Homo sapiens: one gene and its partners. The protein of the gene in region 5 purifies or fractionates together with the protein of the main gene of each other region. This does not show direct contact. Each region holds a gene or a part of one and is shown on either strand. Other genes may lie near its edges.

What was found.
Region 1: the proteins of CD109 (region 5) and PISD purify together in Homo sapiens (co-immunoprecipitation; one large-scale study listed by IntAct). This does not show direct contact.
Region 2: the proteins of CD109 (region 5) and TBC1D10B fractionate together in Homo sapiens (co-fractionation; one large-scale study listed by BioGRID). This does not show direct contact.
Region 3: the proteins of CD109 (region 5) and PLCXD3 purify together in Homo sapiens (affinity purification with mass spectrometry; one large-scale study listed by BioGRID and IntAct). This does not show direct contact.
Region 4: the proteins of CD109 (region 5) and ME2 fractionate together in Homo sapiens (co-fractionation; one large-scale study listed by BioGRID). This does not show direct contact.
Region 6: the proteins of CD109 (region 5) and NFASC fractionate together in Homo sapiens (co-fractionation; one large-scale study listed by BioGRID). This does not show direct contact.
Region 7: the proteins of CD109 (region 5) and CD226 purify together in Homo sapiens (co-immunoprecipitation; one large-scale study listed by IntAct). This does not show direct contact.

The regions. Positions count from the first base shown.
Region 1 is NC_000022.11:31,644,802-31,648,878, forward strand, and holds part of PISD (phosphatidylserine decarboxylase proenzyme, mitochondrial), read right to left. Parts: intron 3,476-4,077; coding exon 3,300-3,475; intron 1-3,299. UniProt on the Homo sapiens protein: Catalyzes the formation of phosphatidylethanolamine (PtdEtn) from phosphatidylserine (PtdSer). Plays a central role in phospholipid metabolism and in the interorganelle trafficking of phosphatidylserine.
Region 2 is NC_000016.10:30,367,499-30,372,145, reverse strand, and holds the start of TBC1D10B (TBC1 domain family member 10B), read left to right. Parts: upstream 1-1,651; 5' UTR 1,652-1,962; coding exon 1,963-2,918; intron 2,919-4,647. UniProt on the Homo sapiens protein: Acts as a GTPase-activating protein for RAB3A, RAB22A, RAB27A, and RAB35. Does not act on RAB2A and RAB6A.
Region 3 is NC_000005.10:41,311,257-41,315,333, reverse strand, and holds part of PLCXD3 (PI-PLC X domain-containing protein 3), read left to right. Parts: intron 1-1,563; coding exon 1,564-1,717; 3' UTR 1,718-4,077.
Region 4 is NC_000018.10:50,920,483-50,924,559, reverse strand, and holds part of ME2 (NAD-dependent malic enzyme, mitochondrial isoform 1 precursor), read right to left. Parts: coding exon 3,995-4,077; intron 3,900-3,994; coding exon 3,802-3,899; intron 3,487-3,801; coding exon 3,373-3,486; intron 463-3,372; coding exon 348-462; intron 1-347.
Region 5 is NC_000006.12:73,765,232-73,769,308, reverse strand, and holds part of CD109 (CD109 antigen isoform 1 preproprotein), read right to left. Parts: intron 3,380-4,077; coding exon 3,155-3,379; intron 2,551-3,154; coding exon 2,449-2,550; intron 2,362-2,448; coding exon 2,299-2,361; intron 1,255-2,298; coding exon 1,078-1,254; intron 1-1,077. UniProt on the Homo sapiens protein: Modulates negatively TGFB1 signaling in keratinocytes.
Region 6 is NC_000001.11:204,834,854-204,838,930, reverse strand, and holds part of NFASC (neurofascin isoform 1 precursor), read right to left. Parts: intron 1-4,077. UniProt on the Homo sapiens protein: Cell adhesion, ankyrin-binding protein which may be involved in neurite extension, axonal guidance, synaptogenesis, myelination and neuron-glial cell interactions.
Region 7 is NC_000018.10:69,860,550-69,864,626, forward strand, and holds part of CD226 (CD226 antigen isoform a precursor), read right to left. Parts: intron 3,891-4,077; coding exon 3,765-3,890; 3' UTR 1-3,764.

The DNA of each region.
Region 1 (4,077 bases), on a different chromosome or scaffold from region 5:
ATCTGATGTCATGTGACAGGTCACAGTCAAAACTTTGTTTTGGCCGGGCATGGTGGCTCACGCCTGTAATCCTAGCACTTTCGGAGGCCGAGGCGGGTGGATCATGAGGTCACAAGTTCAAGACCAGCCTGGCCAAGAGGGTGAACCCCTGTCTCTACTAAAAATACAAAAATTAGCTGGCGCAGTAATAGGCACCTGTAATCCCAGCTACTTGGGAGGCTGAGGCAGGAGAATCGCTTGAACCCAAGGGTGGAGCTTGCAGTGAGCCGAGATCATGCCACTGCATTCCAGCCTGGGTGACAGAGTGAGACTCCGTCTCAAAAAAAAAAGAAAAAAACTTTGTTTCATGAAGAAAATTATTTAAAGTATTATATAAAGTTACCCGCAGGCTATGTGTAGAAGGTATATCTAAAACATAAATGAGACCCCTGTTTCCACAAAAATTCAAACAAATTAGCCAGGTAGGATGGTACACGCTTATATTCCCAGCTACTCCAGAAGGCTGAGGTGGGAGGATGGCTTGAGCCTAGGAGGTCAGGGATGCAGTGAGCCGTGATCATGCCACTGTACTCCAGCCCTAGGTGACAGAGCAAGGCCCTGCCTCAAATAAATAAATAAATTGGCCGGGCGCAGTGGCGCACACCTATAATCCACACACTTTGGGAGGCCGAGGTGGGCGGATCACCTGAGGTCAGGAGTTCGAGAGCAGCCTGGCCAACATGGTGAAACCCTGTCTCTTTTTTTTTTTTTAGTTTTAGTAGAGGCGGGGTTTCACCATGTTGGCCAGGCTTGTCTCGAACTCCTGACCTCAGGTGATCCACCCGCCTCAGCCTCCCAAAGTGCTGGGATTATAGACATGAGCCACCGCGCCCGGCCAGTGAAACCCTGTCTCTACAAAAATATAAAAATTAGCTGGGCATAACGGCAGGTGCCTGTAATCCCATCTACTGGGAAGGCTGAGGTGGGAGACGCTTGAACCGGGGAGGCGGAGGTTGCAGTGAGCCAAGATTGCGCCATTGCCTTCCAGCCTGGGCAACAGAGTGAGACTCCATCTAAAAAAAAAAAAAAAGAAAAGAAAAACAAAACAAATAAAATAAAATAAATAAATTTTGTGTTCAGACTTGGGTCACATCCCCAAGTTATCTCAGTATATATATATATACAAATATTGAAAAATCCAAAAAAAAATCCAAAACACTTCCAGTCCCAAGCATTTTGGATAAGGGATACTCAAACTCCAATGTCAACTCCAAGTCCAGACCATTTCCCCCTCATAAAATGAAGTGTTGGAGTCCCACTTGAAAATCCAGGAGTGGCCGGTACAGTGGCTCACACCTGTAATCCCAGCACTTTGGGAGGCTGAGGCAGGAGGGTCGCTTGAGCCCAGGAGTTTGAGACCAGCCTGGGCAACAGAGCAAGACCTCATATCTACAAAAAAAGAAAAAGAACATCAAGGAGTGGTTCTGTGACCATTTTATTCAATCAAGAAGAGTATCTAACTTAAGCCCAGTTCTTTACCAATAGGTGCTTTGAGATCTCACACTGCATTAGGCCACTGTACTCCAGTGTCCTGTCACTTTCCAGGCCCTGGGACTTATGAGTTAATCAACCCTGTCCTCTTTACAACCATCTTCCAGGTCTGAAACTATGTATGGCAATAACTCCAATTACATAAACAGCAGATACTAAAAAACTACTGGCGTTGGTCTTTTATGATTTTGGAAGTGGCAGGTTTCTTCCAAATTTATATTCTTTTGGGAAACCTTTGAAGTGTGTGGGAATTTCTTGAAAGCATGCAAGCTCATCACAGGGTGAGTCAGCCTCAAAAATCCCCAAGGTCAGAAAGATGTCAGCTTGGGTTTAACACTTGAGGGGGGTCATGCAGTCACAGTCACGTGCTACCTACACTTTACAAGTACTTTACTAATCTACTAATCTAATGGAAAATGATGTTTACAGGGGAAACCAGCAACGCCACAGGGAACAGAGGGCAGCATACTTTGAAAGTGTGACTCACCTACTACATAATTACCCTTCACCAAAAGGAATTTGTGATATAGTACCGGAAAACTTTTTTTTTTGTTTAAGGTAGGTTATTACAAAGCCCAAGGCGTACGAACAGGCCAAAGGGTAGGCACATGGACATACAGGGCAAGAGCAGACAGGTATCTCTTAGGGTAACTCCCATAGCTGGATCTGTATGGCCAGTTGACTAAGTCACGGTTTTACAGGACTGTTAGAAATCAAGTGAAGTCTGTATACTAGATTCTATTGGAAGAAAATGGTCAAAATTAAAGTCCAAAAAAGGATTTTGGAAGGAAACCTATAATGTAGCATGTAATGCCAATGGCAGCAAATACTCCTAGATAAACTGTTAGAGCTGGATGGAATCTCAGAGTCATGTTCGAACCCAACCTGCTGTTTTACTGTTAAAGACACAAGACCAGACAGAAAGTGACATGTCCCAGTTCACACAGCTACTGCGGAGCATGGTTGAGACTTGCCTTCAGCATCCTAATGCCCCAGTCACCGTATGTCCTATTAGAATAGATTCAGCTGATCTGGATTAGCAAAATGGAGTGGATCACCACTGCATTCCAGATATCACAAAGCCTCAACTGTCACCCCCTCTTTTGCCCAGAATATTAAGACCTATTACTGGTCCTTTGATATTTCAGATTTTTTATTTGTTAAATTATGGCTGCAAAAAAAAGGCAATTGTTAAACTTACACCTTTATATTCAGTTTCACAATTTACTGAATGTCTCCTCTAAGTCAGGAATCATCCTGGGACATGGGAAGCACAGATGAACAAGATGTTTCATTACGTATCGTGCATTCCGTAACAATGCAGGCTGCCCCTATCGTGTGACTATGATGGAAGGAAGCATTTTGAGCAATAATGACAAAGGAATTTGATTATTTCTGTCTGGTTCCTGGTGAGAACTAATCCACATCACAAAAGCTCAATAGTTTCAGCCCTCTTCTGACTAACAAGGGCAAGAATAGCAGAACAGCCAGGATGTCAGCACCAATTCAAGACATACACTCTGAGACTTCAACAGCAAGAAATTTCTACTCAGAACCCTTGGGGAGACCAGGGTAAGGTCTGGCAACAGAAGACAAGCTTGACTTGACACCAAAGTTATAACTCCTGTATCTGGCCAAAACCTACTGGAGACATGAGTTCCAAGAAAGCATATTTGACTTGTTCAAACATTTCAACTTTGGAACAACTGGAAAAGTGACAGACAAAGTTTGCTGGACGAGAACCCAAGGCAGTTCCACCTCATTCCTACCTCCCAGTGACCAGCAAGTTTGGGTGGAATCTCCAATCCCAGCTTCTCCAGCTCTCGCTCCCTGTACTTCTCATACTGCCGGTACCCTGCATACCCGCCGCCTGTCACCAACAGAATGGGCAGGGGACGCAGCAGGAACATGGTTCGGGCAGGGGCAGTGTGGATTTTTCTGGCATCTGTAATAAAAAACAGGACAATTTCAAGCCTGAGAGACAGGAATAGGGAAGAGTCATGCAAACACAGCACCAACAGGAGGGTCAGGAAAAGTCAGCGCACCTCAGAAGCCCTCAGTAGGGGACCAGGCACATGGCTCACGCCTGTAATCTCAGCACTTTGGGAGGCCGAGGCAGGCGGATCACGAGGTCAGGAGATCGAGACCACGGTGAAACCCCGTCTCTACTAAAAATACAAAAAGAAAACTTAGCCGGGCACAGTGGCGGGCGCCTGTAGTCCCAGCTACTCGGGAGGCTGAGGCAGAATGGCGTGAACCTGGGAGGCGGAGCTTGCAGTGAGCCGAGACTGCACCACTGCACTCCAGCCTAGGTAACAGAGCGAGACTCCATTTCAAAAAAAAAAAAAAAAGAAGCCCTCAGTAGAGGTGACTGGACCCTCAACATATCTAGCAGGCAGGTGCAACCTTGGGCCACTACTCAGACCCTCCTGTCTCCAAATTCTGTCAGTACGTACAGGACAGGCATCTTTCCTATAGAATTACAATGCACCTCAACTGCCACCGCAGTCACAAAATGTATTAATAGATGAAAACACTGAATCGCAA
Region 2 (4,647 bases), on a different chromosome or scaffold from region 5:
CTCCAAAAAGGGGAATGGGAGGAGAGCTCAGGAAGCTTGGGTCAAACGGGAGATGGGAAAGGTGAGGAGAAGGAGATCAGACACTGAGTGGGAATTGACAGGACATGGGGCTGAGTTGGGAGTGAGGGACCTTAGAGGACTCAGAAACCAAGGAGGAGCTGAGAAGTCGGGAGCTAGGTCTCACTGGAATTCCAGGATGGTGGATGCTATATGGAAATCAGAATATGGGGGTCAGAGAAAGAAGAGGGCGTTTAGAAGTTGGAAGGTTGGAGCTCATAACGTCAGGTCTTTATGCTTGTGATCTAAGGACAACCTGGAGCGCTCATGAGATTGAGGTCGGGATTCTCAGTGGAACATGAGGAGCACAGAGGGATGTGGCAGTGAGGGGAGAGGGGTTGACGGGACTGGGGCCTTGGATCCCCAAAAGAATAGTAACACACATATGGGGAGTTCATGGTATTAGGGATTCATGGATTTGGGGTTTGAGATCCCCACTAGAAGAAATGGAGGGGGTACTCAGAGGGATAAGGTCTGAGGAACTGGAGCCTGGGTTCTGGGGAGGAGCTCAGATAGATGGGAACTGAGGAGAGGGACTTGGAGGTTGGGATTCCCGCAGGAAATGGGTGAAGCAGAGATATGGGTTGCTTATAGGATCTGGGGGCTCTGGCTATTGCCACCTGGGCCTGGAGTGTTGGGGTTAGTTGGGGGCCGAGATCGGAGAATTATAGAGTAAAGGATGAGAGTACTGGGTCAGGGCACTGGATCTGTGGTGGGGCTCAGGGTCCCACAGACCACCAGAGTGTGGGGCTCAGGAGCTGAACGAAGAATAGGGGACCGGAAAGGACTCGAGAGGGGGCAGCGCGGCACTCATTGGTTGAGGGCTGCACTAATGCCCCCGCCCCTTCTCCGTGCTGTCCCCAGCTGTCACCCTCCCATAAGGCTTGTCTCCGGTTGTCACCGACTATCCCTGGGCTGGCACCGCCTGCTGGCAGCATCTTTGCCCTTTGGATGCTCCCATTGGCTGAGACAGCTATCTATTTTCCTGTCCTGTGGCCAAAGTGGGAGAACACGATCATTGGCTGACGGGGCGAATTAATCTCTAGCTTGCCCCGCCTCCTCCCAGCTGTCATTCCTTACTGACCATTTTGGGAGACCTAAAGAATTCTTCAGCTCTTCCTATTGACTGCGGATGCTGTCTGTCACCGCCTAAATAGACATCACTGCCTGTCAATTTGACCTCCACCTGCTCCCCTTTTCATTGGCTCCCTTTTTACCATTCCTATTGGTTAAGAAGCCTCCAGGCCCCACCTCTTACTCGCACAGCCCTGCCTCCTCCTCCGCCCTTCCGCGGTCATTCACCCTTCAGTCATATTCATTGGCCAGGAGGTTCAGACCCCTGCGTTTCTATTGGTTATTTCTTTCGTCCCATCGCCCCCTGCCTTTCCTCGTCCTCTGATTGGTCTTACAGCCCTAGCTTTCTCCGTTTCCTCTTTCCAGATGACCCACCCCTTTTTCGCCTCCAGCCCCGCCCACGATTCCAACGATTGGCAGAAGCCCAGTTCTCTCTCTCCCACTATTCGTCCAAATCCTCTGACTAGGCGGGAGAAAAAAGGAGCGCGATGAGCCAGTCCGCGCGCAGGCGTGGAACGCCGAGACGCTGGCGCGGAGCCGGCTCTGCGGCGTGTGCGCAGGCGCGAGGTCGGCGGCTCGCCCCCAAGCAGGAGGGAGGGGGCGGTGGCGAGAGCGCGCGAGGGGGTGAGAGGGCTCGAGAGAGACCCCGGCGCGCGGCGCCCCCCGACCCCTGCCCCGCCTCTGCGCGCCCAGCGGCCGCTCCGCCCCCGGCGCGCGCCGAGCCGCGCCCTTCGCCCTCTCCCCTTTCTCGGCTGGCCTCGCCGGGAGGCCCGAGGGGCGGCGCCTTCTGCGGCCTCCCCGGCGGGGGGATGTGAGGGGCGGCCCGCGGCCATGGAGACGGGCACGGCGCCCCTGGTGGCCCCGCCGCGCCGTCATGGCGCCCCCGCGGCCCCCTCGCCGCCGCCCCGGGGTTCCCGGGCCGGGCCCGTCGTGGTGGTGGCTCCGGGACCTCCAGTGACTACGGCCACTTCGGCCCCCGTCACCCTGGTGGCCCCCGGGGAGGCGCGGCCCGCCTGGGTCCCGGGGTCGGCCGAGACCTCTGCTCCGGCCCCGGCCCCAGCCCCGGCCCCAGCCCCGGCTGTCACGGGCAGCACGGTGGTGGTGCTGACCCTGGAGGCCTCGCCCGAAGCCCCAAAGCCGCAGCTCCCCTCCGGCCCGGAATCCCCAGAGCCCGCGGCAGTGGCTGGAGTTGAGACATCGAGGGCTCTGGCCGCAGGGGCAGACTCGCCGAAGACAGAGGAGGCTCGACCCTCACCCGCCCCAGGACCAGGGACCCCCACCGGGACCCCTACCAGGACCCCTTCCAGAACGGCTCCTGGTGCCCTGACCGCCAAACCCCCGCTTGCCCCCAAGCCGGGAACCACAGTGGCCTCAGGAGTGACTGCACGGAGTGCATCAGGACAAGTGACAGGTGGGCATGGAGCTGCCGCAGCAACATCAGCATCAGCAGGACAGGCTCCTGAGGACCCCTCAGGCCCTGGCACAGGCCCCTCTGGGACTTGTGAGGCTCCGGTAGCTGTCGTGACCGTGACCCCAGCTCCGGAGCCTGCTGAAAACTCTCAAGACCTGGGCTCCACGTCCAGCCTGGGACCTGGCATCTCTGGGCCTCGAGGGCAGGCCCCGGACACGCTGAGTTACTTGGACTCCGTGAGCCTCATGTCTGGGACCTTGGAGTCCTTGGCGGATGATGTGAGCTCCATGGGCTCAGATTCAGAGATAAACGGGCTGGCCCTGCGCAAGACGGACAAGTATGGCTTCCTTGGGGGCAGCCAGTACTCGGGCAGCCTGTGAGTACCAGTGGGCACCCAGCGGGACCGCCTCGGGGAAGCAAAGGTTGGGGGAGGGCGAAACGAAAACGATACACTTTGCCCAGACTCTGGCAGCCCAGCCTCCTCTGAGGATCCACGGGGTGATCAGCGCGAGCTGCCGTGTCTTGAGCATCCTGAGGTGCCTGTGACATTGGCATGTTAGTGGAGTTTCAGACCAGGGGTCAAGAGGTCTGGGTTTAAGCCTTGCCTTTGATGGGTTGTGTGCCCTTGAGCTAGTGGCTTCCCCATTTCCGTGCCTCAGTTTTTTCCTCTATAAAGTGGATTGAATGAGATGATACCTGAGGTCATCCCTGCTCTTTGATGGGGAACTCCAGCTACAGGCCGGATATTCTGGAGGGTTGGTTGGGCGAGGGTTCTGGTAGAGACCCTTGGTCCCTTAGGGTGGATAGCCTGGGAGGGGTGCAGGCATCTCCCTTCCCCCATAGCCCTAGGTCCCAGGGATGGAGTAGAGAGGTGGGGAAGTCTGGCTGATGGAAGGGAGACTGTGCAGTCAGGATCCCGCTGTGAAACAGGGCAGTCTTGTATCTGCACTGAAGTAAAGGGTGGGAGAGGCCTCTTCCCCATTTCCTCATCTCCCCAGCCGGGCTGACTCTTTCCTAGTTCTCTCCGGGGCCTGAGTCACTCCCGAGGTAGGGGGTGATTGCCTCTGACTTCTTCCTTCCCCCTCTCTGGATCCTGCCCGTTGTTCCTGTGCCCCTTTGACCTGCTGGGCCAGTCAGCCTACAGCATCTCCTGGGCCCCCAGGTGTCAGGCCCCAGGTGCTAAGGATAAAATAGTCCTTTCAAGGAGCCAATCATCTGGAGAGAAAGAAAAGTACTTAAACAGTTGGTTTCAATAGAAGACCTCGGGTTTAGCCTAGAGATCTCCAGAGGGTTTCCTGAGGCACCTAGAGCAGGGAGTCAGCTGAACCTGCTCTGAATCGTGGAGAGTAAGTAGGATTGATTTAGTCTTGGCTATGTGTGCAGGGATCGGGGGAAGCCCTGTGGGAGAGTTTTCCAGGCAGGGTTCATGAGCCAACCAAAATCAGAAAGCCTTTGATTGGGTACCAACATTCAGGGTCTTACATGGGAAAGCAACTGAGGTTTGACCCTGGTGCTTTCTAGGCACAAGGACTCGGTTTATAGATGAAGAAACAATTAGTGCAGTTGAGTGAATTGTCCCCCTCAAATAATCTGGATCTGTGTGACCAGTGGCTCTCTCCTCAATAGCAGGCTGTCCTGAGGAACTCGGGCTGAACTTAGTTTGGGGGAGTCCCTCTTGTGTGCCAGGCACTATGCCGGGTGCTGTTTCTTTGCTTTGTAGCTTTGTCCCTGTAAGATCAGCTTCAATGCCAGAGAACTCTACCTCTTGGGCAAGACTGACTGTAATCCATGTTACTTTCGCAGCGTTCAGTGGCTCGCTGCTGTCCACAGGATGAAGTTCAGGCTCTTTGGCCTGCGCATAGCCTCTCTGGTCACCTTTGCCACCATTCCTCACCGGGTGCTTTGCGCTGTGGTCCTGCTGAACTAGTTGTAGTCCTTTCCCCTTCATATTCAGGCTGTGCACCTGCCAAGGGTGCTCTTCTCCCCTTTCTTTGCCTGCTAAGTTCTACTCATTTCTTCATGGCTTACCTCAGATGTCCCCTCCTCCAGGAAGCTTCCCTGATACCCACTGCCCCCACTCCAATTAGATGTGTCTTTGGTGCATC
Region 3 (4,077 bases), on a different chromosome or scaffold from region 5:
TTTCTCTCCCTCTCCCTCTCCATTTCATCCAGGAATTTAATGTTCACATGTATTTCCCTCAAACTTTCTTTATTAATACACTATCATGTCTCTGGCCTGTTCATTTATCCTTTTGTCATGGAAACTTCCCTTCCTGCCCTGACCAAGTTATAGTAGTTCTCATTCCAATATGCTGTCAGAAGATGCTGGACATCATCATTAACATCACCTGTATCTGTCTGCCTGGATCCATTGCTCCTAAGCACACACCATGATTCTGTCAGCAAATGAAAAAATGGTATTTCCTCTGCCTGAAAGTGCATTGCATCATCCTCCATCTACCATTCTCACCTTTATCCAGCTAAATCTTCCTAATCCTTCAATATTTATTTTAGCAAGCATTCTTCTGAAAGGTTTTCAGAAGACTTTCCTTGATTTTCCAGGCTATGCTAAGTGACTCTCCACTATGATCTCATGGTGATGAATGAGCTCTTATAGTGAAAGTCAAATCACACCACTCCTCTGCTCAAGATAATTCAAAGGCCCCCTATTTTACTCAGAGTGAACATCAAAACTTTTATAATGGCCTAATGTGCCCTACAGAATCTGCCCCCTTTTCCTCAGTATCCTCATTTTTTTTACTACTCTCTTCTTTTCTCTAAGCTTAAGCATGCTACCCCATTAGTGCCATGGCAATAGCTGGGATGCTTTCCCTAGATAGCCACATGACTAACTCCCTTGTCTCCTTCAAACCTTTGCACAAATGTCCCTTTATCACTGAGGCCTATTAAGCCACCCTATTTTAAAATGCAATCTGCATCTCTCCTCCCTACCTGCAGATTCCTAATCTTCTTTTCTTTGCTCCATTTTTATAGCACTTATTCCCTTCTATCAAACTACATATTTTTATGACTATTGTTTATTGTCTGTTTCTCCTTATGAGAATGTAAGCTCCACAGGGAAAGATATTTTTATCTGTTTTGTTCACTTGAATCCTCCAGGTGCCTACACTGATGACTGGAACTTAATAGGTGCCCAGTAAATGTGTTTGAAGGAATGAGCCCTGATTATATTGTGCTACAATTTCTTCCTTGTCTGCCTACCCACCACCAAACTGTGTACTTTCTGAAGGCAGGGGATTTTACTATTATGTCTATTTACAATATCTTAGCACATTTCCTCATAATAGTGGGTTCATAATAAATGTTTGCTAAGTGCATGTATTCATCTCTGACCTCCCCAATCCGTAGTTTTGCAGGGTTTGTGATGACACCATGTTAAATCAGAATACAAATGCAAAAATGTTGTTTTCTTAGTAGGGAAGCATCATTATAAACTATCACAGTATCTGGGATCTGCCGAGATGAGAACTCCAATACGGATCAATATAGTGAATATTTCTCCTGCAGAGTTTCTTCAAAGGTTAAAAAATCCCCAGAGTCCATTTGGCCTTTTCCCCTTCCTGTACCTATACGTGAAACATTTATTTTAATAAGCTAGAAACTAAAGGGAAGACTGAGAATTGTAGAGCTTGAAAAATAGTATCTTGCCTTCTGTGACTTTTCTTTTTGTTTCCTTTCTCAGAGCTCTTCCTGCCATGATGCAGTGGGTCCGCACGCAGAAGCCAGGAGAGAGTGGCATCAATATTGTCACTGCCGATTTTGTAGAACTTGGTGACTTTATCAGCACTGTCATAAAGCTCAACTATGTCTTTGATGAAGGAGAAGCCAACACTTGATAGCACTACTTGGAGTTTCCATGAATAAGATGGAGAAAGCTCATTGTATTAGGGCATACTATCTGTAAACACTCTGATCTTCCTATTCCACTGAGTCTCTGAAGGGAATAGGGCTGGTAGTGGGTGGGAAAAGGGGAAAAACTGTTTCTTCAGTGATTACAATCATACTCTTCATTACTATAAATATTTCATTTCCCATTTGATGAGCAAAATCTACTTCTAGTGTTAGGAATAAAAAAAAAAGACCAGTAACTTTGTTTTTCAAAATTAGTCTTTGTAACATAGAATTCATGAGTGTTTACTTGATTAGGTTCTCTATTTCCAGCCTATGACTCCTACGCTGTCTATACCCTGCAACCTTTCTGCTCCCTCTCTTGCTCGCTCTTTTTAATCAGATGCTGTATGGGAATCAAAACAATTGAATGCCCAACATTTTGTGTATTACATTGTTGTCTTAAAACTTACTAGTTTTGTGGGACTTGTTATAATGCTCTATAGTCATCCACAGTTGGGCAATCATAGCTAATTTTTGGTCATAGAAAATCTGCATCAAATCAGTTTCCATGCATCAGTAATATTGAAGGTCATAATCAGTGATTTTTGTTATATGAAAATAATAGTGTTTCACAGTATTTCTATTTAAGGCAGCTATAAATATAGGAGAAAAATGTTTTTGGAGAGCTGTGAATGCCAATTTCAGAGGGAAAAATGGTTGAGGGGTGAAAGAGATGTATGGCATTTTAATTTGGCAATCTCTTAAATAATATTGCCCTGCAAGTACCCAGTAAATGGTAAGGTACAAGTGTGTTAAAATTGAAAACTCTGAAAATAACTCTTTAAAAAGCCCTCTTAATGATGCTCTTGATGAAAGAAAAAGACAGAAGGAAGGAAGGAAGGAAGGAAGGAAGGAAGGAAGGAAGGAAGGAAGGAAAGGAAGAAAGGAAGGGAGGGAGGAAGGGAGGGAAGAAGGGAGGGAAGGACAGAAGGAAGGACGGGAGGAAGGAAGGAAGGGAGGAAGGAAGGAAGGAAGAGAGGGAGGGAGGGAGGAAGAGAGGGAGGGAGGGAGGAAGAGAGGAAGGAAGAAGAAAAAGACTGCAAGCTTTCCTGCCAATTTGGGATTTTCAAATATTTAATTCTAAATTCCAGATTTTAAGGAAGATTTTTCAAGAAACTGCAAGTTTTTGACTTGAAGGAAAGAAAGAGGAAGGCTGGTAGAAGCAGTTAGAGCAATGTGTTTGAAATTATGTCCATGAAATCACAGGGATCTCTGAAATATCTTTAGGAAACTTGAAATTTATGAGGTCTGAATGGACTTGTTTAAAATTGGCTCTGACTCCTCACTTCTGAGTTTCATCCTATCCGAGGGATGAGATTAAGGCAGAGGCAAAAGTTTCACACAAAGTTTCTGCAACCTAACGTTTAATAGTCCGGGTCTACAGGGAAGAACAATGACACAGCTTGAGCGTTACTTCCTCCTTCGTGTCATTGTGATATTTGACAACTCTAAAAAATAAAAAAAAAAAACTTAGAGCACAATAATCCTTGCCTATGTACTTCACAGGAATATTGTGAGGTGTTTATAAAATTATAAAATTTGATGAAATTCTTACAATTATTAATTATTTTATTTTCATGTTTAGAAATAATCACACCCCAATAGTTTCCTAGGATAATACAGTCCATGCAAAGTAGGGTCATAGAGAAATAAAAGCATGCCCTCAGCTTTTAATGAACTTAAATGTAGCACATATGGCTTAATCTCTTAGACTTAGATAAGGGAGTTCAATTCAAAACCATATATGTCAAGACCACAAATAATCAAGAGTTGATTTCAAGATTATAAATACTCATGATCAGAAAATAGTACTTATTAGCAATTAAAGGGAGGAAAAGAAATTGTTTATACTGAAGAGAATGTTTATGAGGAGTGTGTATGTACCTGTGGTATACCAAATAGCATACATGTACACACAAAAATGTGTGTATACATTTGGGTTGTGTGTATACATCTTGCCATATACAATATACAAACATATGCCCATTCCTGTGATAGCATACAAATTCAAACATACAGAAACACACACAGATATGGACACAGTACAATTCTTCTTTTCAAATGAAGACATTGATAATATTAAATAATTTAATTTTAAGACTGAAACCCTTAATATTGTGTGAAAAAGAGTAATAAAACCTTTGAAAGTAGAGTAGATGATCACATCAAAGTATTTTTGTAAAAGAATTCTAGTGTAGGACTTAATTATTTTTAAAATATATTTCTTCTCTTCTTTCCATTTTCCCTTCCCTTGTAGTTTTATTATCTTTCTGTCTTTTACACCTGCTCTTTATGTGAAAATGTA
Region 4 (4,077 bases), on a different chromosome or scaffold from region 5:
ACTCAAAGTTTTCAGCTTTGTTGCCCACGAAAACTTTGAGTCTGCATAGAATTTTCCTGGTAAAATCTGCAAATGGCTTTGGTTTTTTTCATGTTTTGAGTCCAACAGTCATACCAACTCTAAAAGCAAATCATGATCGACTACACAGTGTCTAGGACCTAAAAGTATAAAGCAACATCTGGTAACTGAATTTCATGCATGGTAACCAAAAAGTTATCACAGAAAACATTGTACATGCTGAAAGCTAGGTAAAACTGCCAATTCATTTTTAGTAATCCTACATGGTAATGATGACTGGCAACATACAGTTAGGGAGTAAAATTATTTATCAGAAAAACTTTACCTACCAATTATAGTTGAAGGCTTCAGTATATTCACTGCATCTTCAAAAGTATCAGGTATGCTCTCTGGGGCTGAGTGAGTAAATGGTTCCTGATAACTATCTATTTTTGCTTTCCGTCCCTAAATTTTGAGATAAAATACAGTATTTTTTTAGTCAATGCATATTAAAGATGAAATAAAAAGACATCATTATGAGTTACACATTGTTTCTACAATAGAAATGTCTTTTCATTTTCATTTACTTTCCTCTTCAACCCATACCTTCCAACTCTATCTTCATCATGTCCATAAACTCAAATATAAAACAAAAATCAAATCTACCATTATTCCTAGAAACTTTCTAGTTCCTCTCAAAAATGCATTTACACTATGAGGTCTTCCTAAGTCCAATGTGGCACAAAAGCCTACAGTCCTTTATCTGGGGTAGATGAGTTTTGGAATTAAGAAATTTTCATATTTAATTTAATTTGATTTATTTATTTTGAAATGGGGTATCACTCTGTCGCCCAGACTTGAGTGCAGTGGCAGCCTCTACCTCCCCGGGCTCAGGTGATCCTCCCACCTCAGCCTCCAGAGTAGCTGGAACTATGGGCACACACCACCATGCCCGGATGATTTTTTTGTAGAGATGGGGTTTTGCCATCTTGCCCAGGCTGGTCTCAAACTCCTGGGCTCAAGTGATCCGTCCACCTCAGCTTCCCAAAGTGGGAAGCTGAGCCACCACATGCATGAGCCACCACTCCTGGCTGAGAATTTTTCATATTTTAGAAATACAATATGGCGTATATCAAATATTACATATTCTCCCTCCCAACAGATACTCCACAACTGAACAAACTTATGAATAGTCACATCAAGTACAAAAGGTTAAGATTACAAAGAGCTTCTTATTAGTTTGAGTCAGGTTTCGCTTCTAGGTAAATTCAAGGCAATCAGATTGGTCACAAAAATAAATTTTGGAAAAAATTTTGGAATTTCAAAGCCTTTAGGATTTCAGAATTGCAGACAGACACCATGGACTTGCACTACCAAGAGTTCAGAAACAAGAGGAACAGGGAATTCTGGTTAAAGATGGCTGAATGAAGAAACATGCTTTCCTTTCCAAATCCCAGGTCAAAAACCATAAAAGTTAAATTTGTAGTAATGCCACAAAGCCAGAAGAGATACCACTGACAGACTAGAACAATGAAGAATTTCTCAAAGATTTAAGGCAGACAAAAACATACTGAATGCAAAAACCAACTGAGAACTCATATTCTTATTTTGGTAAAAAAGAAGACTTCTGAAAAAGTGTATTTCCATCAGAACTCCAAGATAACTCCAGATAAGAAACTGCAGGGGTTAGTAAAGCAGGACACTATCATCAATCGGCTGAGAAAACCAGGCTGAGCAAACAGTGACATAAGAAGCCACTGTTTTCAAAGTTTCAAAATGAAGGGCAGTGTTTAGGATCACCAGGAGACACTGGAAGCCTAATGCCCATAGGCCAAGCTACCTGCACACTGGAAAAGAAATATATAATCTGATGATGAATATGGAGATGGACAGGGTTCTCACTTTGTGCTAAGTAAACACATTGTAGCTACCAATACTGTGTTAGACCTGACCTACCAATATGCTAAAGAATCACAACATATTTGATGAAAACCAACATTACAAAAAGAAGTACCAAACTAACTGTGTACTAGTCAAAACATACATCCCCCAATAGCCTTCTAAATATGTGATGTTTTATCCTTGTGCCTTACATACTAGTAAATATGGTAGTTACAGCCTCTTTGGGAGGCAGCACAGTTTAATTATTCAGAGCACAGGCTTCGCAGTCAGGATACTTGGTTTTGAATCCTACCTCCGTCACTTATAAGCTGATGACTTTGGAAAACTCCCTCGACCTTTTAAACTGTTTCTTCATTTGTAAAACTTCACAGGATTTTTTGAGATGATTAAAGGAGATAATACATGTAAAGTCTTATAACAATGTCTGGTATATAACTACTATTACATTTTAAATTACATGTAGTTTGAGCACTCAAGATTTTTCATTCACATACTTTAACTTTTCATTTTATTTTTTGTACTAATAGAATACTGGTTCTAATTAACAAGAAAAGATTTTAGAACTGGAACAAAGTACATTTAGATAGCTTGCTCCACAGACATAAATGCCAAGCGACAGCTATACCATTATATTTTAATGTGTACATACAAAAATATAACAGCATTGTGTACTGGATTGGTTTAACTATGGAACAGTTTACTTATATTCAATGTGTTACACAGAAGATATATGACATTCTTAAGCTAGTGAAAATGGTAATCAATGCTAACAAAGGTAGTCAGGCCCAAAGGTACTAAGTTAATCTGGGAGATAAGCTCTTTATTATCCATAAATTGGTTTCAGGAGCACATGCTTTTTTCCTGGGGATAGGGTCCACAGATTTTTATTAGATTTCTTCAGGGGATTATGATCTCCAAAGGGTTAAGAATTTCTGCTCACGGCCAGGCACGGTAGCCTCGGGAGGCTCAGGCAGGAGAATTGCTTGAACCCAGGAGGCAGAAGTTGCAGCGAGGTGACATCGCACCACTGCACTCCAGCCTGGGTGACAGAGAGAGACTTCATCTCAAAAAAAATAAATAATAATAAAATTAAAAGAATTTCTGCTCAAATATCAAAACTACTGCAATACTGCAATTTAATTAGGAAGTTCTCAGTTCCTACTAAAAACCTAGTTTTAGGAGTGTCAAACACGATCATACTTGTACAATGGCCATTTGATCTCTTAAGAGCAAGACAACAAAGCAAGAAAGAGTAAGTCTGATGCCAACATAGAGATTATTAATTCAATATGAAGCAGAAGTCTTTGTAAAAGACAACAAGACTAGGGACATCTGTTGAAAAGAGAGTGGAAGGTCCCAATTGGTATAATTTGGAGACTCCAATGAGAAACAAGATTTTAAGGAATAATATTTTAAAAATCCAACTAAAAATATAATACACTCTTTTGCTTCTCCAAATTTTAAATACCTTACCTTAACTAATAAACCATACTTGTCAAACATCCAGATTTTCTTTTGTGCCTCTTGTTCTGACAGGCCATTTTCTACCATAGACATAACTATAAGATTTGCAATTCCAAGAGCAGCCTGTTCAACAAAACATAAATTTTAATATATACTAGAGTACGATGCAATGCTTGAATTACTTTATATATGAAGATTATATGCCATAAGAAATATTTGGTTTATTTTTCCCTTACAAATCAAACAAAAATTCTTCGTGATATTCTCTCGAAACATATTTTAAATTACATGTTTTACAGCAGAACTCTTGATTTCATATCCTCTACCTCAACAAAATTACAGGCTCACTATGCTCTTTCATAAACATCAATATTCTGCCCATTTTCTAATTCTATAAGAGAGGATAGGCTTAAGTTTCAAAAAGCCTTCAAAACTTACCTCTCCTGCTCCAAGGAATAAGATTTTGTGTTCGGAGATTGGTTTACTAATAACTTTTTGTGCTGCAAGAAGACCTGCTAGAGCTACTGCAGCTGTCCCTGTAAGAAAAACAAAGATTTTTACAAATAAAAAATGGGCACATTAAAAATGTTTAAAAAGTAGGAATCAAAACCCTGAAGTTTTTTTGCTTTACCTTGAATATCATCATTGAAAGTACAATATTTTTCTCGGTACTTTCTCAAGAACCTGAATGCATTATGATTTCCAAAGTCTTCG
Region 5 (4,077 bases):
CTAACAAAACACAGTGTTATCTTTTTAAGAACTCTTTTCATAAGCTAAAAAAATAGAAGTTTGTATTATATTTTAACAATCAAAGTGAGAGTAATAATTCTCAACAAAACTAAAGTACAGGCCTGGCGCAGTGGCTCATGTCTGTAATCCCGGCACCTTGAGAGGCTGAGGCAGGTGGATCTCCTGAGCCCAGGAGTTAGAGACCAACCTGAGCAACATGGCAAAACCCTCTCTCTACCGAAAATACAAAAATTAGCCAGTCTTATAACCTAGTCTCAAAAAATAAATAAATACAAATTTTAAAAAAGAAAGTACAGATCACTACTGTTACTTCTCAAATATTTTAACAAATAAAGGAAAAAGAAATAGAAGAACCATACTCTGCAAATCACTATTTAAAGGAATAATTTTTTACATAAGAGGATGGAGAGGGCAGCAGTTGTTAGTGACAGCAATGGCTCATTCTTATATACATGAGATGATGCAATCAGGTTTCTTTTCAGAGCTGGGGTCCAAAGGGATTTCCTACTCAAGCTGGTCACATTAGGCTATAAAAGGCACTGGTGCACTTGGAGACCAGACTCCACACAGATCCTCACATGCAGGGTAATCAAGCTCATTGAAAAGTTGCCCTGGGCTAGTTTCCAGCTAATTAAATAGATTAATGAAAGCCCAGCTCTGCTTCTACGTATTATCCTAGATGGCCTCACTCCTTCCCACACCCTTTATATCACTGCAATATCAACACCACACGAATTCTATGTTACCACTGGAATTTCACTCCTGAGCAATATTAATTCAACCATTTGAAAAATTCTGAAACAGCTTCATGATCTGAGTTAAAGTCTTAAAGACCAGAACCATAGTTTACAAATAGACTATCAATCCCCAATAACTCCACAAGTGAAAATATATATGTAATGCTAAATATTGAAAAGTTTAACCATAGTTCTAGAAATAGAATAATATAAATTTCTAACCAGTTTGGCTTAATGATACTTTTCTAAAGAAATATTACATTTCTCAGACTTCACTAATATAAAGTTTTCTTTTAAACATCATTACCTTAAATCTTACCTTATTTTTAAAAACAAGCTGAACAGGAATTTTTAGAACATCACTTATAATTTCCCCATCATCTTCAATATAATACACAATTACACAGGCTTTTGGAGTCCAAGAATTTTCTGGTGTTAAAGAGAACATTGTTGAATTTTGTTTTCCTACAGCCACCAACTGTCCCCTGGATACTACCTGAAAAGAACAGTAGATGGGTTTAATTTATTGCCAAACCTAGTAGGATCTCATCTGAAGCTACATTAATCATAATTGTATGCATACACACAAATTCTTGAATTAAACCAGCTTCAAAGTCTTTTGGAATGCAGGAAAACCTCTCTGACAAACACAGAGAGCATACACTGAGAAAAAGAAAATGGTAAGATTAAAGTAATACTGATTGGAGCAACAGTAGCTTCATAGTCAAGAATCTATTTTTGATTGCAAGGAATACAGGGCACCATTGGGAAAGCTGAATTAGCAAAATTACATGGTCATGGATAGCACTTTTTATTTTCTTTTTCATTTTTCTTACATTGTATAATTTTCTATAATGAATATATATTGCTTATCAAATAGAAATTTAAATTTTAAACATAAAACAAGGTTTAGTTATCTATTTTAAATTGGAAATGCAAACATAGGTGAAGAAATAAAAAAGGTTTTTTATTTGATTGCAATGTTAAAACGACAGGCTAAAAAGGTATGAGGCTGAGTTATAAAAATTAATAAGTTTAGTGTAGATATAAGGTAGACACCATTTAAGATGATTCTCAACCTAAATGCCCATCAAAGGTGGACTGGATAAAGAAAACGTGGTGCACATATACTACGGAATACTATGCAGCTATAAAAAAGAATAAAATCATGTCCTTTGCAGGAAGATGGATGGAGCTGGAGGCCACTATCCTTAGCAAACTAATGCAGGAACAGAAAACCAAATACCACATATTCTCACTTATAAGTGCACACTAAATGATGAGAACACATGGACACATAGAGGGGAACAACCGACACTGGGTCCTATGGGAGGGTGGAGGGTAGGAGGAGGGAGAGGATCAGGAAAAATAACTAATGGGTACTAGGATTAATACCTGGGTGATGAAATAATCTGTACAACAAACCCCCATGACATGAGTTTAGCTATATAACAAACCTGCACATGTACCCCAGAACTTAAAAGTGAATAAAAAGATGATTCTATAATAGATCATAAATTTAGATTCTATAAGAGATTACCATATAGCTTAACTCCTTCAATCGTTTGTTGCCACTAACCACCAACTCAAAAGGCGATCCCACCTAGAAAAAAACCTTAATTAATATGTACATATCAAAAGCAAGATAGTCCAATTATATTGTAATTCTCAAGTGAATTGTAAGCATTACCTTTATATTTTCATCTCTTGTTTTTAGTTGGATGTATGTCTTACTAGGAGACTTAAACAGACTATGAACTGCCATGCTACTTTTACTACCAAGGAAATAGGCCTATAATAAAAGAAAAAGGAGCTGTAAATGTTCATCTTTAGTAACACCTTGAGAAAAGATGTTACCTGCTGAACAATTATTAAAGACCAAATTCATCTTCACTTTTTTTTAATGCAAGAAAAATACATTCACCAGACATTGGATTTTCATCATTTTATAGCTTATACTGTAAAGAAACTGATAGCTTTAAAACACAGGAAAGGAATATATATATATATATATACACACACACATATACATATACATATATATGTGTGTATATATATATATGTATATATATTTATCTTTCATTTCAATTCCTGCCAAAATAAAATTTCAAATGACTGACCTCAAACACTAGACTGGGGATTTGAGGAAATTCTCCATCATATCTTCACATTGCTATATTTTACTGTGCTCTTCAAAATGAACTTACAAGGAAAAATTTAGTCTAACCTTCAGCCACTGTCATTAAATTACTTTTACCACTCTCCTCCATTTTGTGAAACAGAAACATGTGTCCACTTCCTATGTACTTTCAGTTCTGACAGGTTGAGTGCCTACCACAAGATTACAACTGTAATGGTGTTGTTGCAGTGACACAATGATGGGAAACAGACGGCACCTTCAACTGTAGCTCACTGGAATCCTCCAGGATTGGGAATTCAATCTTAAAAGTTCCACTTTGGGGGACAGTATAATTTATTTTCTGAACAGCTTCCATTTTCTGATTTCCACTGTTAGATCCGCTCCAGTACTCAGTATAGTTTCTCTGTGTCACTGTTATGACTACATTATTTCTTCTTTCTTCAAGAGTCAGTTGGTTGCCATCAGCACGAGTTACCTTCACCTAATGGTCAAAACAAAACATCTTAAAAACACAAAGGATTTAAGTACGATTAAATACAGTTTCCGTCTGTAGTATTCTCATGAAATTGAACTCTCAAAAATTATTGGTAGCACTATAATATCCAGATTCAGTGGCCTCTCTCTAGGAGGCATCCAACATCACTGATTACTCCCTTGTTAATATTATGGATTCCCTTAACTTCCGCGGCTCCAAAATAACCCCCTTCACTTCCTACCTCTCTTTCTGCATCCTCTCAGTGTCCTTTTCAGTTCCTCTTTCCTCTCCCTAAATGTGGGAATTTTGGACATCTGTTCTTCTCCCTTCCTCCAAGGTCTCAGCAATCCTATTGCTTAGCTTGTCATCTCTGTGATTGTACCCTAAAGCCAAAATTCCCATCCTTGCCCTTCTCTGGAGTTCATGCCCAACACCTCCAGTTACCTGCAGGAAATTTCTACTTGGATATCCTGGACACCTTGAATTCACATATCTAAAATGAGCAACCATGTCATTTTCCTATTTTCGCTAACATCAGGATTTTGCAAGACTTTACATTTCTGAATTTTCCCTCCCTCTCCCCACCCCCCAAATCCAATGAACACCAAAGTCCTATGCTTCTCTCTTCCATCCTCTCCACTCCCACAGCTACCACCACAAGGCTGCCCATCCCCTCACTCCTGGGCTACAGCCATCCTCCTGCA
Region 6 (4,077 bases), on a different chromosome or scaffold from region 5:
TTACTTACCTCTTGCTTGGCATTTGTAAGCATTTATCACCCTTTGATACTTCTAACACTCACTCTTCCTTGGGGCAAAAATGGCTCAGAAAAACAAAAACAAAACAGAAAAAGGCTCACCTGTACCCCCACCCTGGGCCATGTTCACTATACCAGATAAACGGGATGACTGTAAAGATACATAGAGTTGCAGTGGGAGATGGATCAGGACCGGGAACCTTTCTCTGCTGAGATGCCTGCAAACATCTGACACCACAGCACATTATTTGTACCCCACCCCACCTCACCCCACAGCCAGCTTTTCAGGGCCATAAACACTACATCGCTTTCCCGTTCCAGGCTCCGAAAAGTCTTAGATCAGGTCCCTGAGACCCCAGACAGAATCCAAGGAGCCTTCCCTCGGCTTTTGAATGGAAAACTTGCAGGGCATCATGGATGGTTTTTCTCATTATGAAAACAAGAAAGTCAGGGCAAAACTCACAGCCAGACACAGACTTCAGTTTGGATTCAGCATGGGGCTTTCTCCAACAATTGGTCAAACTTACCCCCACTCAAAAGTCCACTTTACTCTAAGTCAGAGAGGCTTAGGTATGAGGATCAATAAGGAGAGGTAAGTGGCAAAGGTCAAAGATTCTGACTCTATAGAGCTGTGCAGTCTAATATAAATTACATAAATAAATTTAATGTAATTCAAAATTCAATTCTTCAGTCATATTAGCCACATTTCAAGTGCTCATGTAATTGGTGGCTTAATTATGTTAGACTGTGCAGATACAGAACATTTCCATCATCAAAGAAAGTTCTATTGGACAGCACTAATATAAAGCATTTAGATGTTTCATTTGAAGTAATGAGTACGGTGTTCTGGGAAGTTCTGCTGCTCTCCCCTGGTTTGTTGGGGAGGCTTTAGGTGTTCTGTGGGATGCTGAATAGAGGGTGTGCATTTTCATAATGAAAGAAGCAGTGTGCTGGAATTCTCATGTAAACCCAAAAGTTCTAAGGCAAAACTTACAAGGCTACAAAGTGGGCCATCTTAGCCTGCATACGTGGACACACAGTCTTTCCACACTTTTGCTTTCATCACAAGGACCATAAAGTCAGATACTGTAACTATTTTACTGACAAAAAGCCCACATGCTGCCTAGTCCTAGGCAGAATCATTCTCGAGATCCCCTTGGCTGGTTGTAAGCATTCCCCGGCGTTACTTTCCAGTGCAGCATCACTGAAGAGAAAAATATCTCAGGTCAGGTCAGCACTCTGGACAGCGACAAGCTCCTTCCCAGTGTATTTCAGCACTCCCGTCTGCCCCAAACATCCTTCAGAAGGAACTATCCCCTCAGAAACCACCAGGTGCCTGGGAAGGGACTTCCCACCCACTTCTTCTAACACCACAATCTTGTTGTCTTCAGAACAAGAGAGTGTTCAGCTATGAAGCTTCAAATACTCCTCACCAATGCCAAAAAAATTCACTCCTCAGCAAGCCAAGGTTTGCTACAGTCTGGCCCCAGACCGCTTCTTCCACTGCTGCAGCCTGGCCAATTCACCATGCCTGACCACACTAGCTGTTTCCCTCTTCTAGCCCTTTGAGTGGGCACTCCTTTCCCCACCAGAAATGCCATTTTCTTATCTTTGACTGTTCAGGTCCTACCCATCTCTAGAGGCCCAAGCCAACCCCCACTTCTCTTCAGAACCTTCCCCAAAGACTTTAATCTACACTGATTTCCTCTGTTGTCTGACATCCCAAAGCACTTCTAGTTTAGATCATGCTTTAGAAACTTAATTACCTATCAATCATCTTGTATCATTACCAGGTTCCTATGTGGGTTTTGCCAGAACTAGCTTTTGCCAGCAACCAGCCATGCAGTCACAAGTCAGTCATGCCACACTTCTGAGTCATTTCTTGATTAGTAAAATAACTATCTTGAACTAAAACATTTCTAACATTTTTGAGTTTAGGTTTCTCTCAGAACAAGTTTCCACCTAGAAGAGTGCAATGCACATAGCAGGGTCTTCAAATAATAACTGCAGATGCAATGAATATCTTACAAAAACAAAACGAGGGCATATCCCAGGGCTGAGGCCAGCCACAGAATCCTGGTTTAGCTCCCAATGTGGATGACAAAGGCTTCAATTCCACTCAGTGTGTGATGATAATCGGAAAGATATCCAGTTTCTGCCCTGACCTACGTCAGCATAGAAATATCATCTATGGCCTTGGAGGCATTTTCCTCCATAAAGACATTCACCTCCAACATGTGGAAAAATACCACACAATAGGTATTATAACAATGGCAGTGACAACAATGTCTTGCATATAAATTTATCTTATATAGGTCAGCCAACACCTGACAGCAATGTACTAACTTCATTTACTAATTACACACAAGCCCAGACAGACTAGGAAAAGTAACAAGAAGCATAAACATTGGTGGTGCCCCCAAATAAAACTCTGGCTGGTCTCACGAGTCAAGATGTTCCAAGAATTAGGTGGCAGGGAGACAGACTTAAAATTTTACCTCAATATTACACCTTCTGTCAAAATGATAGATAGCTATAATACCTCCTCATAATTAACATCCTGTTATTCTCAAATAATTTGGCTTATGGTCAACACACAGTAAGATATAGGGGAGATTCTTCCACCTTTGAACAACAAAAAAGGCCTAGAAATATTTAATGACTTTTACCCTGCAAATAAAGATAAAACTAGAACCAGACTTAGTTGGAATAATTCTACTAACATAGGCACCACACACACACACACGCACACACAGACATACATGCACACACATATCCCAATACACAACTCAGAGAATTCTTAGTAATATAAAGAAAAGAGTGATGAAATTCTCTGACCCTGAAATTGGAGCTTTCACCAAATGGTTGTTTAAAATGCTACTGCCAAAGCAAATTGGCCAGCATCAGTAAAGAAAAAGGGAATTTTCATCACTGGGAAAAGTTCTTGGAATTGCTCTGCCAGCCATTCACTCTCATCCCAGAAAATCACAAGATCTGAGAACAAAACTTAGCATCTGATCAATCCACTCCAGTTGGCCCAAACTGGATCCAGGAAAGCTAGCTCAGCATGGAGGCCAGAAGTCTCCCATCCTAGAAGGCCTTTCCCAGAGCTGGGCATCGTACGTGCTCAGAGAAGCAAATCAGGGAGACAGCAGTGCAACGAGGTTAGAAGAGTAAAGACTAGCACTCAGGGTTCTCTATGATTTTTGTCTCCATATACTGCTCCAGACACACCCCTCACTACTGAATTACATGCACCCACCACCCAAACCATGCCATTTACCTTCATGAATCAAAGATCCTCTACATAGTCCTGCTTTTGCACATGATTTTTCTCCAGTAGTCCTGGAGAAAGTCTTCAAGTCTTGATATCTCAAGACCCACCAGCCGGGCGCAGTGGCTCACGCCTGTAATCCCAACACTTTGGGAGGCTAAGGTGGGTGGATCACTTGAGGTCAGGAGTTCAAGACCAGCCTGGCCAACATGGTGAAACCCCCATCTCTACAAAAAATACAAAAATTAGCGGGGTGTGGTGGTGGATGCCTGTAGTCTCAGCTACTTGGGAGGCTGAGGCAGGAGAATTGCTTGACCTGGGAGGTGGAGGTTGCAAGGTTGCAGTGAGTCAAGATCGTGCCACTGCACTCCAGCCTGGGTGACAGAGCAAGACTCCATCTCAAAAAAAAAAAAAAAAAAAAAAAAAGACCCACCTCAAGTACTTCCTCTTGCAAGAGGCTTTTCCAGATCACCCAAGCCCAATGTGATCTTCCATCAGCTTTCTAGAACTTACATTCTGGAATTAGCAAATATTACTTATATTTGGACACATATCTCTTACCACCTGTAAGGCAGAAGACAGGGTCTCATAAGCCTCCACATTGCTCCAGAAGATGATGTGGTAACGCTGACCCAAATAGCAGGTGCTTGGTGATGATGATGAGAATAATTAGACCTTCTTAGGAGGTTCATTTGCCACCTAGAGTCAGAACTAGGTATGAAGCTAAGTACGAGGGGCTGGGTGGGGCAGGCAGAAACAGGCCAGAAGGGAACCCACTTGGAGGAC
Region 7 (4,077 bases), on a different chromosome or scaffold from region 5:
CTAGAAGCTATTTTTCTACCTATTGAATCACTAGAAATAGAGAAGCTTTTAAAAAAATTAACTTGTTTTTAGTTTTCAGATACATGTTTTAAGAGCCCAGAGTCTTGGCTGGAAGAACTCTAATGAACAGATCAGTGAAAAAATATACTTATACAGAAGTCTGAAGGTGGAGATCAGTACTTTCTAGATGTTACATTTTAATAGTAGCTAAACTAATGATGACATGTTTATATTGTCTTATATTTTTTAAAGATATTTTCTTATCACTGTTGTGAAAAAGAAACTTTGTACTCACAATTTAGCGTCTCCACTTACACTTTATAAGCATCTTTATAATATCGTCAATCTTGCTGAAATTTCATATAAGCAGTACAAAATACAGTACATCATTATAAATCAAGGAGAAGCATTTTGGTCACAGTGATCTCTAATTACAATGTGGACTCTCTCAATTTAGAAAACTACTGTTATACAGCTGTAATTTTTACTTAATGCCATTCTATACAAACCAATATAACTTGGATGTTCACAATCCACGAATGCCTACTAAAAGTATTTTTACTTACTTTGTCTTTTAAATTGATAACCCATGTATTTTAAGTTTATATATATAGTATTTTAGTAATACACTGAATTACTTAAAACATAAATTGGAGTTTTTACTAAAAATTATATCTTCACCTACCTGCCTCCCATTTTAAGCATGATTACAAGTAAATGAAATTTCTATTTTATTTTCTCAACATATTATACCTAAAGTTCTTTAAATAAAGTTTGAAGGTATCTCTTATAATAATATAGTCAATGCATAGTCATCATAGTTCAATAAGATGTGTTCTTTCCCTGACAAAACTGTGTACTCCATTAACAAGTCTTCCTATCTTATTATAACAAAGTAATTTCCTTTCATTGGTTACTTTAACATAAATATTAATGGCATTCAAAGGAAGCATAGATTCTTAATGTATTATCCATCGATATAAATTATATGTGTATATATATATGTATATATATATATATATATGTAAAACTTAAGAAGCATTTTGCTTCCAAAGCAGCAACTTGTAAAAAGTATCTGTATTTAAAATAGAATTTACTGGAATTCTGATCGTTTATTCTGTGGATCTGTTTTTCATCTGCTTTCTTAGTAACAATCAGAATCATAGGTGCAAAAGAGTAGAGGGGGAGAAACATACACTAGGGAGAGTCCCAAAACTATCACGAATTAAGAATGATGTTAAAAAGATGACAATGAAAGTGCTTTGGTAAGTAAAGATGTCCAGAGAAAGAAAATGAATGAATGGAATTTCACAAGCATTACCCCTGAGGGTATAACAGGAGCATCAGAAGACGTCAGAGAATTTTTGGGAGGACTTCAGATGGCTCCAAATTCCTGAAAAAACCCTACACTCTGTAGAGGAAGAATATATAGAGAAGAAAGGACAGAGTAAATAGTTCTCATCAATATTTTGAATGAGAGACCAAAAACACAAACACACACAAGGAAAAAGAGACAAGTTCCAAATGTTCTGGAGGCTTTGCAATACTGCAGTGGTTTGCTACAAAAGTCTTTCATGAAGTTCCCAGTAAAAACCACCATGACAATGGTATCTGACTATACTGTCCCTTCCACACCCAGTCATAATTTTCTCTCTTAAAATTGGATTTATATTTCCCCATACTACAACTGTAAAAATGTTTTCCTGCTCACATACACTAATCATTGAGAATTTGGTTATTGGAGTTTTCCAGAAAGTAATATTTTGATTGTCTTTACCATTCAGAAAAGAAATTATTTACCTTTTAATTGATGCTAAGCTTGCTTCACCATGCAAACCAATAAATTCACTCACAGAATCTTTGATTGATCTGATAGTAGAGTGCTTTCTTGTAAACTGCCTTTCAAGTTTGTTACACTAATATATTTGTGGAAACATTTCATGAATCCAGGTATAAAAAGATCTTTAAGCAAACATAATAAAAATGAGAGTTTACCCTTCTTGCATATACTTAAGCACAACCAGGAAATGGTCGTTTTTATTTTTTCACTCCTGAAAAGGGTTAAAAGAAACTCACAAATTTTATAATTCACAGAAATGTGGGCACTTACCATTTCTGTAATTCACAAAACAAGTGCATTATTTGGCATACATGGTGTTTAAGGCTAAAATCATAAAATACTCACTAATTAGCTTAAAAGTGTAAATTACATCTTAGAATCTGTCTAGGCAACAGGAGAATTTGGATTTGCTTTATTTAAGATTATCATGAAGTCCACAACTTTGATATTTAAATACAGCCTTCATAATGAATCTTTTCTAGATGGTGGTCTTTAGAAATCTTTAGAGATAAATAATGAATCTTTTAGACATGAATGATCACTATATTTAACAATAACCATTGTCCTTTCAAGGTAACCATGACAGTTTTATTCAGTTTGGCAAATACTTTTCATTGTTAGCCTACATCTAGAATTTAAACAATATTAGGTATGGTCTCTAATTGCTTTGACTGTTGGTGATGTCATTAGGGCTGTCTTTGTCTGAATAGTGAAGCAGAAGTTTCCCTTTGTATTTTTCTGTGGTTTGATTCCTTTCTCCTGTTGCCTGTACCCTCCCAATTTCTTTTTTCCCTCCCAAATTTCTACCCTACCGTCCTATGCCACCACTTTCAACTGTCACTTTTAGTGGTATATTATATTCAACTTTCACATAATCATTAAAAAATAATAACTAGGTGCCTGACCCTTTTGAGAGAATTTACATATTAAAAATAATTCTCAAAAGTAGACAAAATATGTCCAAAACATTAAGTTATTTATTATTCGACTATCTACTACATTTGCTCCTAAGGCTAGACCTGGGATGGCGGCAAGAATTCTATACAGAATGAGAGATAAATAAATATGAGAATAGTAAAGGATTGCCCTCTCGCATTTATCTTCCTCTTGAATATTCATTTCTTCTACTGCCAGGTATTCTTCTGGACTATGCTGATAGAGTGGATTCTAGAAGTATGGACAGAGATACCCCATTTCTAGAATCCATCCCATATTTCACTTTTTAGTTAACAAAAATGTCTTGGTTAATCACTGCAGTCAATATTTGTTGGTAAACTCTCCAGCTTTGAGACTCCCCTTTCCTCTTCTAACCATGCTCTGAATTGCCCAGTATTGTGCTTTGACCCTGCTTCTCAGCTCTAGAAGTGAACCCTTAGTTTACTTAAGCCATTCCATCCTTTCTGGTCATGTTGCCTATTTAACAATGAAAAAATAATCAAATTTGTTTGCTCCATTTGAGAAGCAAACTCTCTACCAGACAGAAACAAGGATGTATGAATTGCCAAGAGTTGGCAGCCATCTTGCCAACACAAGAGGAAAGCCTGCATGAGAGTGAGGCCAAGACCAGGGAAATGGATCCAACACTCTGGAAAGGGATTCAGAAGCCAGTTTATGCCCATACTTAATTCTAGACACAACATTTAAGCCCTGGTAAATAGCCCTTGCCCAAAGCTTAATCTCCCCTGGATCATTCTGTTATATGATACAGTAAGTTTTCTTTTGTATATAAACCAGTTAGAGTCAGGTTTTCTGAAACAGTTCTATGAAAAATGATTTTAGGTAATGAAGTATTTTTCCTATCAAAGTAACTCAATTCAGACAACTAGTATCTAAGGTAGACCTTGGGTAGTGGAAAAAAATTGCATAAAGATCCATGCATGAGTACATAAGAGTCATTACTAATGCACTCATGTCAAGAATAAGCTTAAACTCTAGTCTTTGGTCTGCGAGAGAAGGTTGGATAGTTGACATAAATATCCTCTCTTGTATCATCCATGGATTGATTGGTAGGTTGACTGGTAGAGATGGGACTTCTATAGTTATTGGGTGCCTAGAAAGACAAACAGCAGAGAGTGTCAATAATTCACTGCATTTCAACAACTAATGAAGACATTCAAAACATACCTCTCATAAATGCAGGCATGATATGGGACAAGTTTCCATTATAATTAATTTGATAAAACATTCTCATTGTATTGAACTTCTGTTGGAAATCATATTCTTGACTGAGATGCAAC